Regions from separate parts of the Homo sapiens genome. Here region 1 is linked to region 2. Evidence: fine-mapped expression QTL. Tissue or cell type: adrenal gland. Region 2 holds a variant in brackets; the other region holds the start of a gene. All regions are shown on one strand. Distances are between the middles of the regions.

The links. PIP is the estimated chance that this variant, and not a neighbour inherited with it, causes the effect.
Region 1: it holds the start of GPRC5B, and the variant in region 2 is fine-mapped to the expression of GPRC5B in adrenal gland (GTEx, PIP above 0.99).

Annotation. Positions count from the first base shown.
Region 1 is chr16:19,882,297-19,887,296 of GRCh38, reverse strand. It overlaps GPRC5B (G protein-coupled receptor class C group 5 member B), which reads left to right and starts at 2,449. Exons shown (of 4, transcript NM_016235.3): 1 at 2,449-2,570. RefSeq lists a silencer at 1,896-2,190 and enhancers at 3,706-4,436, 4,437-5,000.
Region 2 is chr16:19,848,138-19,855,620 of GRCh38, reverse strand. The region is part of intron 8 of IQCK (IQ motif containing K); the gene reads right to left. Among named protein-coding and RNA genes, the nearest start is that of GPRC5B, 33 kb to the left of the region's middle. RefSeq lists enhancers at 586-1,505, 1,506-2,424. The variant G/A (reference allele first, on the strand shown) is at 3,913.

The DNA of each region.
Region 1 (5,000 bases), 33 kb before region 2:
CATGGGCAGTGCACTGACCATTTCTCAGGTGAGGAATAGAGCCAGGGAAGCCACTGGTTTTCATTAGACAAAGTGAACTGGGCACTTGAGAGCCTGACATGGCTCCCTGGACCTCCTGGAGCCATTCTCTCCAAGGCTGGAGACCCAGTGAACTCTCCTGGGAGGTGAGGTTCCTCTGTGACAATGTCTGACCTGACAGCAAATGACACCAGTCTAACCATTGGTGGATAATATGGCCTGCAGAGCCAGATGGCCTGGATTGGATTTTGTCTTTGCCAACCGTCTAACCCCGGGGCAGTACTTAACCCCTCTTGGCCTCAGTGTCTCCATCTGTAAAACAGGGAGAATAACAGTCTCTGGCCTAAAGGGTAACTGGGAGGATTAAATGAATTAAAGAATTTAAAACACTTAGAATAGCTCCTGGCACACAGAAAGCACTATGTACTCAGCTATTATTGTTATTATTATCATCCATGGGTGTTTGAACTTTTTGGAGGGAAGGAATGCACCTGCCACTCAATGTCCTCCTTCATTTTCACTCTGTGCTCCCTGTGGTATCATCACCCAAAGTGAAACTGACCATCACAGTCAGGGTCCTCTGTAAAACAAGTGGGAAAGGGAATATAACCGTAACTGCAATGTTAATCAGCTCATATTAAGGATTTTCCACATGCCAGACCCTGCGTGAAGCACTTTATATGTTAGCACGTGTTAGACCTTCACAACAACCCCAATAGGCATGTGCGATGAAAAAGATCTCCATTTTGCAGACGTTGAGGACATGTGGCTCACGAAAGTGAACTTGCCCACGTTGACAAAAGGATCTCGGCGTCAGTTCCAAGAGCTGCCACCAGGTGACAGTGCCCATCCACTTTCCAATTGCGCAGTCTGGCGGGAACACACTTTGGGTCGTCCCGCAAACATTTAATGAGCGCCTACTGTGCCTGGAACTGTTCTGGGCTCTGAGGATCCATGCAAATAAACCAGGAGTGGGGCGAAAAACTGCCATTATGGTTCTTCCTTTCCATTTTCCCTTGAATATAATAAAAGGTATCCCAGAGATGCGTGCCCAAGGGGGATGTGGCCTAACCGGACCGGAACTGGGAGGCTGGCAGGGAGGGATGGGAGTATCTGGAAGGGCCACGGTCCCCAAAGATCAGGGGCTGCCACTATTCCCAGAAGGAGGTGTTCTGCATCTCCCCTTCCTGCAGCCCCCGGGAGAGGGGAGCAGGGGTCCGTCCTATCCCTTTTGGTCTTATGTGGCTGGGATGGTTGCGGCGACGGGGGTAGAGATTGGGGGGCGCACCGCGGAGGGAGAAAGGAAATCTCACCCTGAGAATCTGGAGTGCAGGGAAGGGATGCTGCTCAAAGGTCTGTTTCTGGCTTTGGCGGGGGGCCACCTGAGACTGCCAGGGTTTGATGGTCTGAAGGTCACCCAGGGAACCAGCCCCATATGGGGTGCCGGAGCGCAGCTCCCAGGCCTGGTCGAAGCAATGCGACCTCGGAGAGGCCTGAGGACTAGGACGGGGTGAGGGGGACTCAGAGACGGCTGCCCCGGACCCCTCCTTCAAGCAGGTCCCACGGCCGCCCAGCGGACACGCGTCCGGGCTGTGCCCTGACCGTCTGCGGAGCGCACGGCCAGTGGCCCGGGCCGCTGAGTGTGTGAGCCCTGAAGGGCAGTGGACATGTGCGTACGTGGGTGATGTGTGCGGTAGGGGTGGTGGCGATCCTGCGTAGGGACCCACGTGAGGGGTGCACCGACTGGACGTGTGTGTTTCGAGGGGCCAAGGAAGCGGGTGTTGGTCCCAGTGTGCGTAAACGGACAACGACATCTGGGAGTTGGGCAGTGAGGAGAGAGAAGAGTGTGTCCAGGAGGAACCTGCCTGGAGGAGGCCTAGCGGTGTGTGTGCGCCTAGGTGTATACCGGGGCGTTGGTGACTTCGAGAGGCACCGGGCGGGATCGATCCTCTCTGCGTCCTGGACCTGGTGCTGGTGTGTTTCGGGGAAGTTACTGCTTATGAACCCCCCTTGGAGCGTGGCCTGGGGGCAGGAAGGCTTCCGCGCTGGGACCCCTGGGTCGCGATACCTCCCTCGGTAAGTGTATTGGCTAGGGGAGTGTTCCCGCAAATGGATCTACCCTGGGGAGTTGCCCGGCTCGTCTGGACTGCTTACGGGCGCACTGACGTTGTGGGGGGAATGTCCCCGAATTGGGGGCACGAGGTCGGGGGAATCGTCTCTGAGATCCGGGCTAGAAGCTACGAGCTTGGGCTCCGGGGGTGCATGCAGACGGCGCCTAGCCCCGCGCGGAACCGCCGGCGGGACCGGGGGTGGGGCTCGGAGGCCCGGGGGCGGGGCCGGCCGGGGGCGGGGGCGGGGGCGGGGCCGCGGCCGCTGCAGCAGCGCGGGCCGGGCCAGGGGGCGCCTCGCGCGGCAGCGACTCTGGCAGGCGCTGCAGTGAAGCTGGACCCGCAGGCGGGCGTGCGTGGAGCGGGGGCCGCGGCCGCGCCGCAGAGATGTGACTCGGGCCGAAGGCCAGCTGGAGCGTCGGCGCTGCGGGGCCGCGGGGGTCGGTAAGTGCGAGCTGCGCCGATGCAGTGGAGGACGCTGTGGGGACCCCAGAAACTTTTCCCGCCGTGGATTTGGGAGAATTGGGGGGTCCGCTTCTTGTGTTTTTCTAAGCGCCCCCCCAACCCAAGCCAGGGAGTTTATTGCTGGGGGAGATGTGGAATCTGGGCGAGGGGAACCACGGTGCGACGAGAGCAGAGCCGTAGAGGGGTGGGCGGGGGAGGGGAGGATCTGGGGACCTTTACGGGGGGAGGGAGACTGTGCCCGGACCAGGTAGAGATCCAAGTCTCCCAGGAGGGTGTGGGGGCGACCACAGGTGAAGGGCAGCTGGGAGGGTAAAGGAGCCCAGCCGTGTCCTAGTGACTCGTCATGTGTGAGGAGCTGCGGGCTGGTCCTGGGGCCGCGTTGGGGGCTGACTGTGGACAGGGCAGACGCAGCCGGGGGCACAAGGGCTGGACTTTGGGGGTGAACAGCCGCACCTGTCGCGGGGGCTGGGGGTCAAGCCCGCAGCCGGCTTGAGTGCGCATTACTCAGCAAGGGGAGGGGGGGACACGGCGGTGGGAGATGGCAGAGCTGAGACCTGGGCTGGGGACGAATGACGGGGAGGGGTGGGGAGGAGGGGGCGGCTGCATACAATGGCGGGGGGGGCAGTGGCGTTTCCCTTCCAGACAGGGGGCACTTGGACCTCTGGAAGAGGCGGCTAGGCTGGAGATAAGGACTAGACCTGTTCTCGGTCCCCTCTCCTTGGGGGACACAGGCTTCCAGCCCCACAAGGACCCCACACATCCCGGGGTCCCTAGCGCTTAGGCCGAAAAGGGAGCGCGCGGGAGGAGCCCGCACCCGCCTTGGCCCCGGGCAGCCGGTTGAACAGCCTGGGAAGGGGCCAACGACCTTGCCCCAGAAATCTCCCCCGTGCAGCGGGTTCACTCCTCCGTCCTTGCTCTGTCACACCCAGGCCTAGCCAGTCCTCCCTTTCCGTCCCCCGTTCGCTAAGGGGGCGGCTCCTTGGAGCGCGGACAAAGGCCCCTGGAGTGTGGCGGGCAGCGGCGTCCCCGCCTGGGGCCCCAGCCCACGCGCCACATTGGCCGCCCAACTGCACCAGGCCGGGGGGCACCTGAACAGAGCCCAGAAAGCCCTGGGGGACCCCGCAAAGACAAGAGAAGTGGGGGAGGGATCTGGCACAAAAACCCCGGCACTTCAGCCAAGGAACCTTCTTAATTCAGAAGTTTCTTCGGTGGGGACTCGGGCTTGCGGAGGATCCAGGCTTTGAGTTAAACTGCATGCAAATGACATGTAAATAGAATGCAAATTGGCATCTGTCGTTTGGAAGCCCTCCCGGCCAGTTTGGTATCTAAGACTGTGGAGTGAACAGTTTGCTATCTGCTCCCTGCTCTAAGCCTGGAAAGGGGTCAGCTGAGTTGGGAAGGGAAGGAGATTCCAGGAGGAAGGAGCCGCCATTTGGGGGCACAGGCAGCAAGACAGGCAGTTTTGTTAGAAAGATAAACTCAGAATCTTTACTGGATTAATATGTTATTTCAAGAAACGTGCCAGGGACAGAACTGGGTGCCTTGTATAAAACGGACAAAACCCCTGCTCTCCCGGGGCTGGGGAAGTGAGTGGACAAACATTAAACAAACCCATAGCAAATGGCTATGAAATCCGATTGGGGTGAGGACGGCCAGGAAAATAAGATGGGGTGATGTAAAAGAAGGTGACAGGGGTGTATGTACCTGAGATGACTGTTCCGGGAGTGACATTTGAGTGGAGCCCAGCTAGAAGAGGGGCCCTCCGCTGGGAGGTCTTGGAGGAAGACTGAACCAGGAGGAAGGCACTGTGCCTGCAAAAGCTTGGAGGTGGGAATGAGCTTAGAGGAACTGAACAAAGGCCATTGTGGCTGGAGCTGTAGGCAGATTTGGGGGTGGGGATAGGGGAATGGTAGGGACCAGCCAGATCATGATCTTTTGGGTCATGGAAAGGAGTTTAGGGTTTATTCTGTTTGGACCAGTGAACCCTTGGAGGGTTTTGAGTGGGAGGCCATGGGATCTGATTTGTAGAAGCTCCCCTGACGTTGACAAGGAAATGGAAAATAGCCCCCCTTTCCATTCTGCCCATGGGGATAGAGAGACGCTGGGAGCCTCCAAGGGGCTCTGTCCAGCCTTGGGGGACCGCTTTGAGCCTAGCCAGCCACTGCAAGCCAACTGGAGGAGCAGCTCAGGTTTTAAAATCCACTCCCTGCTTTCATACAGTTTTTATCCACTCTAACGGAGCCCCCCGGAGCCCACGGCCCCGTAAGCACTTTCTCGCAGAGCTTCCTGGGGGTTCCGCTTAGTCACATTTTCTTCTCGGAATTACAGCCTGAGAGGAACCAACCACTGTGGATCGGGCAGCCAAGGATGCAATTTGCATTTCAATGATTGCTTTTATTTACAGGACTG
Region 2 (7,483 bases):
ATGTACACCATCCCATGAAATGCACTTTTTTGTTTTTTTGGGGACAGAGTCTCTCTTGTCCAGGCTGGAGTGCAGTGGCAAGATCTCGGCACACTGCAACCTCCGCCTCGCAGGTTCAAGCGATTCTCCTGCCTCAGCATCCCAAGTAGCTACAGGCGTGCACCACCACGCCCTGCTACTTTTTGTATTTTTAGTAGAGATGGGTTTCCCAATGTTGCCCAGGCTGGTCTCGAACTCCCAGCCTCAAGTGATCCACCCGCCTCAGCCTCCCAAAGTGCTGGGGTTACAGGTGTGAGCCACTGCGCCTGGCCCTGTGGTTATTTTCTGATGGAGGTGGGATGAGGGCCTTCAGCAACACAGACCAGCCCTGCAGTCTTCAAACTGAGGGCAAGGGTTCTTGGTCATGGTTCATTCAAAGGAAATCAATTTCCAGATCATCAGCTTCCCACCCTCCTGTCATTCCTGGCCCAGTGTGTAAAGACTCCCCAGGTGCCAAACAAGAAGGCAGTTCAAAATGAGGGCCCTCAGAGTCTCCTTATTTTCTATGTTTGACAACTATCAAATTGTATCATGTATTTATTTGGTTTTGCGTACTACTAATCATTGTATTAGCAACACAAATCAGAAAAAAATATTTTTAATACTTGGAGCCTGTGGTCACAGGACATTTTAAAACATTTTTTCAAGGTATATACCTTTTTTATTCCATTTATATGGAAGCTCTATGGGCAACCACAGTGAAAACCCTATGTGCTTCTAGACCCTACTAACGATGACATTGACTCTTCATAGTCAAGGATGCGCCACACCTCCCTAAAGACTGTCCCACTAGCTGTGATTAACAGCTCCCCAGGGATTGGGGGAGAGTCCCGAGTTGTATCATTTGCCATTTCCATAGCCTATTGGAAGCCAGCAGCCTGACAACGTAACAGAGTTGGGAAGAGGTGCGCACAGTCAGATGGAGCGGGGCTGCCCTGGATCCCCCCAGGGAGGTACACAGGTCAACTAGTGCAGCCAGCATCAGGCATAACTTCAGACCTGCAGGCTGGCTCTCTAGGGACAAATTGGGGACATCTGCAATAGGGGGAAATTGTTAGAAATGCAAATTCAGGGCCCTTTTCCAGGCAGACAGAACCAGACACTGGGGGTGGAGCCCATCCATCTGCATTTTAACAAGGCCTCCAGGTGATTCTGATGGATCAGGCTGGGTCTCTAGGGACAAGTTGGGGACATTTGCAATAGGGGGAAATTGTTAGAAATGCAAATTCAGGGCCCTTTTCCAGGCAGAGAGAACCAGACACTGGGGGTGGAGCCCACCCATCTACAGTTTAACAAGGCCTCCAGGTGATTCTGATGGATGCTAGTTAAAGTTTGAGAACCACTGATTACTGGTTTTCTACCCTGGCTGCTTGTAAGAATCACATGGTCAGCTTCTGAAATTTATTGGTGCCTGGGTTTCACTCCAGCAATTCTGATGTAACTACCCTGGGGCCTGGGCATCAGTAGCTAGGTAAAGCTCCTGTGTGTTGCTAAGGTTCAGCCAGGGTTGAGACACAGATGGGGCTTAGAATCCCTTTAAAGAAACGTGACTGTAGGACCCTGAAGAGTCTAGAATTCCCCTCAACTTATTAACATCATGCTGGCTGCCTGTGAGTCTCACAGTTTAAGCTGCTAGAGAGAGAGTTGGCAGACAGGCTGGGCACAGTGGCTCACGCCTATAATCCCAGCACTCTGGGAGGCCGAGGCACGTGGGTCACTTGAGGTCAGGGGTTCGAGACCAGCCTGGCCAACATGGTGAAACCCTGTCTACTAAAATTACAAAAATTAGCTGGGCGTGGTGGCAGGCGCCTGTTAATCCCAGCTACTTGGGAGCCTGAGGCAGGAGAATCGCTTGAAGGGAGGCAGAGGGTGCAGTGAGCCAAGATCGTGTTACTGCACTCCAGCCTGGGTGGCAGAGCAAGACTGTCTCAAAAAAAGAAAAAGAGAGAGAGAGATAGCTGGCAGACAGACAGATGCTGGAGGCAATTAATAGCTGGAGGGAAGGACTGGCTTCTGGGAGAATTCCCCAGCCCTTGGGTTTTCTTTAGTTTTCTTCAACTGCCTGAAGGAAGAATTCACCTGCAAGCTGTTGTCCTGGTATTTTACCCAATTCCTGTCCATACCTTGACAACCTTGTTGCCTACTCCCTACGTGTTGACCTTGCTTGGGAAAAAGCCCCTTAGTATCTCTTTAGATCATCACTCAGAAATCTTGACAGAGGAGAGCAGAAAGGAATGAGCTAGGGACCTTGTTCATGGGGGAGGACCGAGAGGTGTTATCTCGAGTTGACGGGCTGGAAATCAAGGTGTGACGTGGAGCCTCCCAGTGGAATTACCTGGGGATTTCTGAACACCCTACACAATTAGGTCACCATCTCTGGAGGCACAACTACACTGGAAAACTGCTTGGCGTTACCAAATGGAACTGAGTCTGACAGTGAATACAAATGATTCCACTCCCGTATCCCACTGCAGAAACCCTTCCATACGTGTACTGGGAGGATGCTCGTGATAGCAAAACCTGGACACAACCCAAATGTCCATCAGCAGTTGACTGGATAAACCAATTGTGGTCTACTTGACCAGTGATTATACAACACTGAACATGAGTGAGCCGAAGCCACACGCATCAACTTGGATTAGCTCAAAAATGTTGAAGGAGGCCGCGTGCGGTGGCTCACGCCTGTAATCCCAGCACATTGGGAGGCTGAGGCGGGCAGATCACGAGATCAGGAGATCAAGACCATCCTGGCTAACACGGTGAAACCCCGTCTCTACTAAAAACACAAAAAATTAGCCGGGCATGGTGGCGGGCACCTGTAGTCCCAGCTACTCGGGAGGCTGAGGCAGGAGAATGGCGTGAACCCAGGAGGCGGAGCTTGCAGTAAGCCAAGATCGCGTCACTGCACTCCAGCCTGGGCGACAGGGCGAGACTCCATCTCAAAAAAAAAAAAAAAAAAAAAGTTGAAGGAAAGATGAGAGGCACGGAATAATACATATAGTGTGATTCTATTTATAGCAAATCTAAATGCTGAGAGATGCATACAAACGTGAAAAGAGCTCCAAAGAAAAGCAAGAGAACAGCTATCATGATAGTCAGAGAAGTGGCTTCATGGGGGAAGAGCTTTAAAACTGTTGACAGTGTTCTGTTTGTTTGTTTGTTTGTTTGTTTGTTAAATGTTGTAGAGAGGTCTCGCTTTGTTGCCCAGGCTGGAGTGCAGTGGTGCGATCATAGCTCCCTGCAGCCTCTGGAGGCTTGTGGAGGCTCAAGCGATCCTCCACAAATGTTTTTATTTATTGTTATATGTGTTTTATAGCCACTGTTGTACGCATATTTCACCCCCCAAAAGGTAAAAAGAAATAGGTATGTTCGTGTATTGCTTGAAATTACAAAGCCAACCAATAAAGGCATGGAAAAGAATGATTTAGCTGTTTTGAGGAGGGGAGGGATGGAATCTAAGCTAACCCTCACCTATCATGGCAGGAAATCAGTAGATCCTATTGAAAATCTTATTACCATAGAGACCTGTTCCAGATACAGAAGTAACACCCCGAGGAGCAGCTGAAGTTCAAAGTCATTGCCTCTGGGGATGCACTACTTTGCTAAAAATTAAGCAAGAGATAAAATCTCGACTTGGTGGTCTTCCTCCTCCTGGTCTTAGCAGAACACAGCCTTGCACAGGTAGGTACTTGATCAGCGGAGGGAGGAAAAGGGGAGGGAAGCAGGGGTGAGAGGCAGGAGAGAAGAAGTAAGCCAGGATGCTGTAGAATGCAGCTTCCACCTTAGCTCGGAGACATCATCGTGGTTGGCTTCCAACACCAACAGACAGATGCCTCGGCACCCCTATGCTGTCCTTGTCCCTCTCAGCAGGCT[G/A]GTGCCCAGCCAGTTCCGGAAGGGCTGGGAGAGTGGAAAATCCCAGAGAGAGATACGCCAGCCCTTCAGCTTCAATTAAAGGCAATGTGACAAGAAGGGCCTTGCATACTAATAAGACTCAGTACATCTTCTCCTCGTGGTCGCCCTTATCCTCTCCTGTTCCTGTGAGTGACAGGACTGAGAATTCAATTCACAGCCCAGAGAAAAACCTCCCAGCCAGCAGCACAGGACAGATAAAGAAAATGCCTAAAGCTCAAGACAGGAAATTTGGGGACCACAGGGTCATCCGGCCACTCATACAATGTTGTCCAGACAGGGCCTCAGCATGAAAGGATGACCTGGGGTGAAAATATAGATTCCTGGGCCCCACCCCAGACCTTTAGAAACAGAATCTCCAGGAGTGAGGCCTGGGAATCAGTATCCCCTCCCCCTCAGTGCTGTGGGTGGGTGTTTTGATCTGGCAAGTTTGGGAAAGAGAGCAGATTTGGGCAAGTTTGGGAAACAGTGCCTGTTTCCTGAGGGCCTCAGTCAACTGTGAGCCAGGGTTGAGAATGGCACCTGCCTCCTAAGGGCGCTGAGAGAAGCAAAAGAGGCAAGCTGTGCAAAATGCAAAGTGCTCAGCACTGGTTCTGACCCAGAGTTAGGCACTTGATAAATATCAGCTATTATTATTCGCGTTTTTATTGAGACCAGGTCTCGCTCTGTTACCCAGGCTGGAAAGCAGTGGTGCAAATCAGGGCTCACTGCAGTCTCAACCTCCTGGGCTCAAATGGTCCTTCCACTTCAGCCTCCTAAGTATTAATAGCTGGGACCACACACACGCACCACCATGCCTGGCTAATATATTTTTATTTTGGGTTGAGATAGGGTCTTGCTATGTTGCCCAGCCTAGTCTCTAACTCCTGGGCTCAAGCAGTCCTCCTGCCTCAGCCTCCCAAGATGATAGGGTCACAGGTGTGAGCCACAGCACCCAGCCAGCTATTATTTTGCTTAGGGCATATTCTTTGCCCTCAAAGAGGTCACAGTATAGAAGGTGAGGCAGAAAAAATCAACAGGAAATTGTACGAACCACGAGATGCTCACATACTGCGGGGAGAACTTGCTTCAATAGATGACCATCTGCCACGCAGCTATGGACCACAACCGTGCTGGGGCCTGGGGTTACAAGGAGGAGACTGGCTCACGCTCCCAAATCAGCAATATCTATGAGAAACCTTAAAATGTTCATCTTTTACTCAATTAGCTCCCGATTTCTAGGATTCCAGGTAAATAATAAAAGCAAACACTTCTATGGTACTTATGAAGCCCTTGACACATACGAAGTCATAGTGAGCTAAGTGCTATTATTTTCCCCAGTTTTACAGGTAGGGAGACTGAAGCAGAGACAGGTCATGCAACTTGCTCAAGGTTACGCTGTGAGCTGTCTGGCTGCTGCTGCTCTTAAAACTCTACAGGGTCAAGATCTCACAACTGCCTCCCACCAGGACAGCAAAAATGTCTGTGATTAAAGAAGCAACAATGATGTTACGCAGACAAAGGTGTTCACTTCCGCATCCTCTACCACATAAACAGTTTGAGAACAACCTAAATGCCCAAAAGTCAGGGAATGATTAAGTATCTGACAACCTATAACCTTGATGTGATGTAATATAATGAAGCCATAAAAACATGATGTTTTGGCAAAGTGTAAAAACAGGGAGAAATGTCAGTGGGAAAATACGGTGCAGCACATTTCCTATAAATTTCCATTATGCAAATTTGAAATTGTTCAATACCAAGTTAATCATGTCTCCAAGGAGTACAAGGATGGCACGAGGGCATGGAGGCTTCTGTCTGTTAGAGCTGGAAGCCTAACAGATATAAACTGGGCTCCTTCATTTAATCATCCCTGCCTTCCTTTCTTTTCTTTCATTCCTTCTTTTTCTTTTCTTTTTCTTTTTTTTTTTCAGAGACAGGGTGTCATTCTGTTGCCCAGGCTGAAGTACATGGTGCAATCACAGCTCACTGCAGTCTTGACTTCCTGGGCTCAAGTGATCCTCCTGCCTCAGCCTCCCAAGTGGCTGGGGCTACAGGTGTGCACCACCATGCCCGAATATTTTTTTTACTTTTTGTAGAGATGGGATCTCACTATGTTGTCCAGGCTGGTCTCGAACTGCTGGGCTTAAGTGATCCTACTGTCTTGGCCTCCCAAAGCGCTGAGATTACAGGTATGAGCCACCGCACCCAGCCCCTGCCTTTCTAAAGAAAAAAAAAAGTTTACTTTTTAAAATTTTTATTTTTTTAGAACAAGTGACTCCTATTCCACATTCATTCTTGGGTGAGATTTTCATAATACATCACTTAAGTGTAACTGCCCTGTAGAAAATTACATTCATTACGTCCAAAATTACATCTATTGCTCAACTAAGTTATAACCCAGCATCTCAAATACATAAAAAAAAAAAAAACCTGAACATAGATGTAATGATTGAAAGGAAACTGCTGAATTTTTGTTTTCCTGAATGTTCTACAGTATACCTGTATTGCTATACAACTGGGGGAAACTTTCTAAAAGAATCACCAGAAAATATACCAGACAAAAGAAAAAGACCCTCAGGGTAATCAACACCTAAACAGTATTGCTGCAATTAGAGCCCAAAGATGGGAGAAAGGCAGGAAGGATGAGAAATGGTGTCAAGTGGCCAATCAGAAGCTGCAGGGGAAACTCCCCGATCATCAGATCCAGGGTGGGGTGACAGTGACAAGAGATCCACCCACAAGTGGAGTGGCCTTAGTAGGGGTGACCATTCACAGAAATAATTATGAAATGTTTGCTAGGAAAAGTTTCTGATTAGCAAATTTCTAGGAAAATAACGTTTCCTCCTCAATGTGCTTGCTAATAAAAGGGTACACTTTGGCATCAAGCAGACGCAGTATTCAAATCCTGGCTCTGCCACTTAAAAGCTGGATGATACCCCACCTCTGCCCCCAGCCTCAATTTCCTCATTTGAGCTATAGGTATAATAATCTCCACTTCACAGAGTCCTTATGAAGATTAAAGATGATCCATTCAAAGTGCCTGGTACACTGTACCAGTGGTACTGGTGGCACCAGTATGTGGCACATGAAGAAGGTACTCAAGAAATGTGGTTTCCTTTCCCCCCAGGTGGACTGCAGGAATATAAGCTGAATTGCTGCTAAGTAGTTCATTTAGCATCTTTTAAAATTCATAAGATGTCACTCATCTGAACGTTACTTATCTTTGCAAACTCAGGTATCAAACACAGCCAAGAACTTGAAAGTAAACAGAAGAAGCCAATGTGGATGTTCCGGAATGTATTCCCCAAACTCAGAGCATGGGTGCTCATTCTTTAAACATCATTCTGGCAAGTTGACCTATCAGATATCCCAATGGCAGAAAGGAATTTAGGAATGAAATACGGTCCCAATGGCTGATAAGCACATAAAAAGGTGTGCAACGTCATTAGTCATTAAGGAAATTAAAGCCACGATGAGACAGCCACCACACACCCACCAGAATGGTTAAAATGAAAAAGAAGACTCATCACACTCATTGTTGGTAAAGATGCAG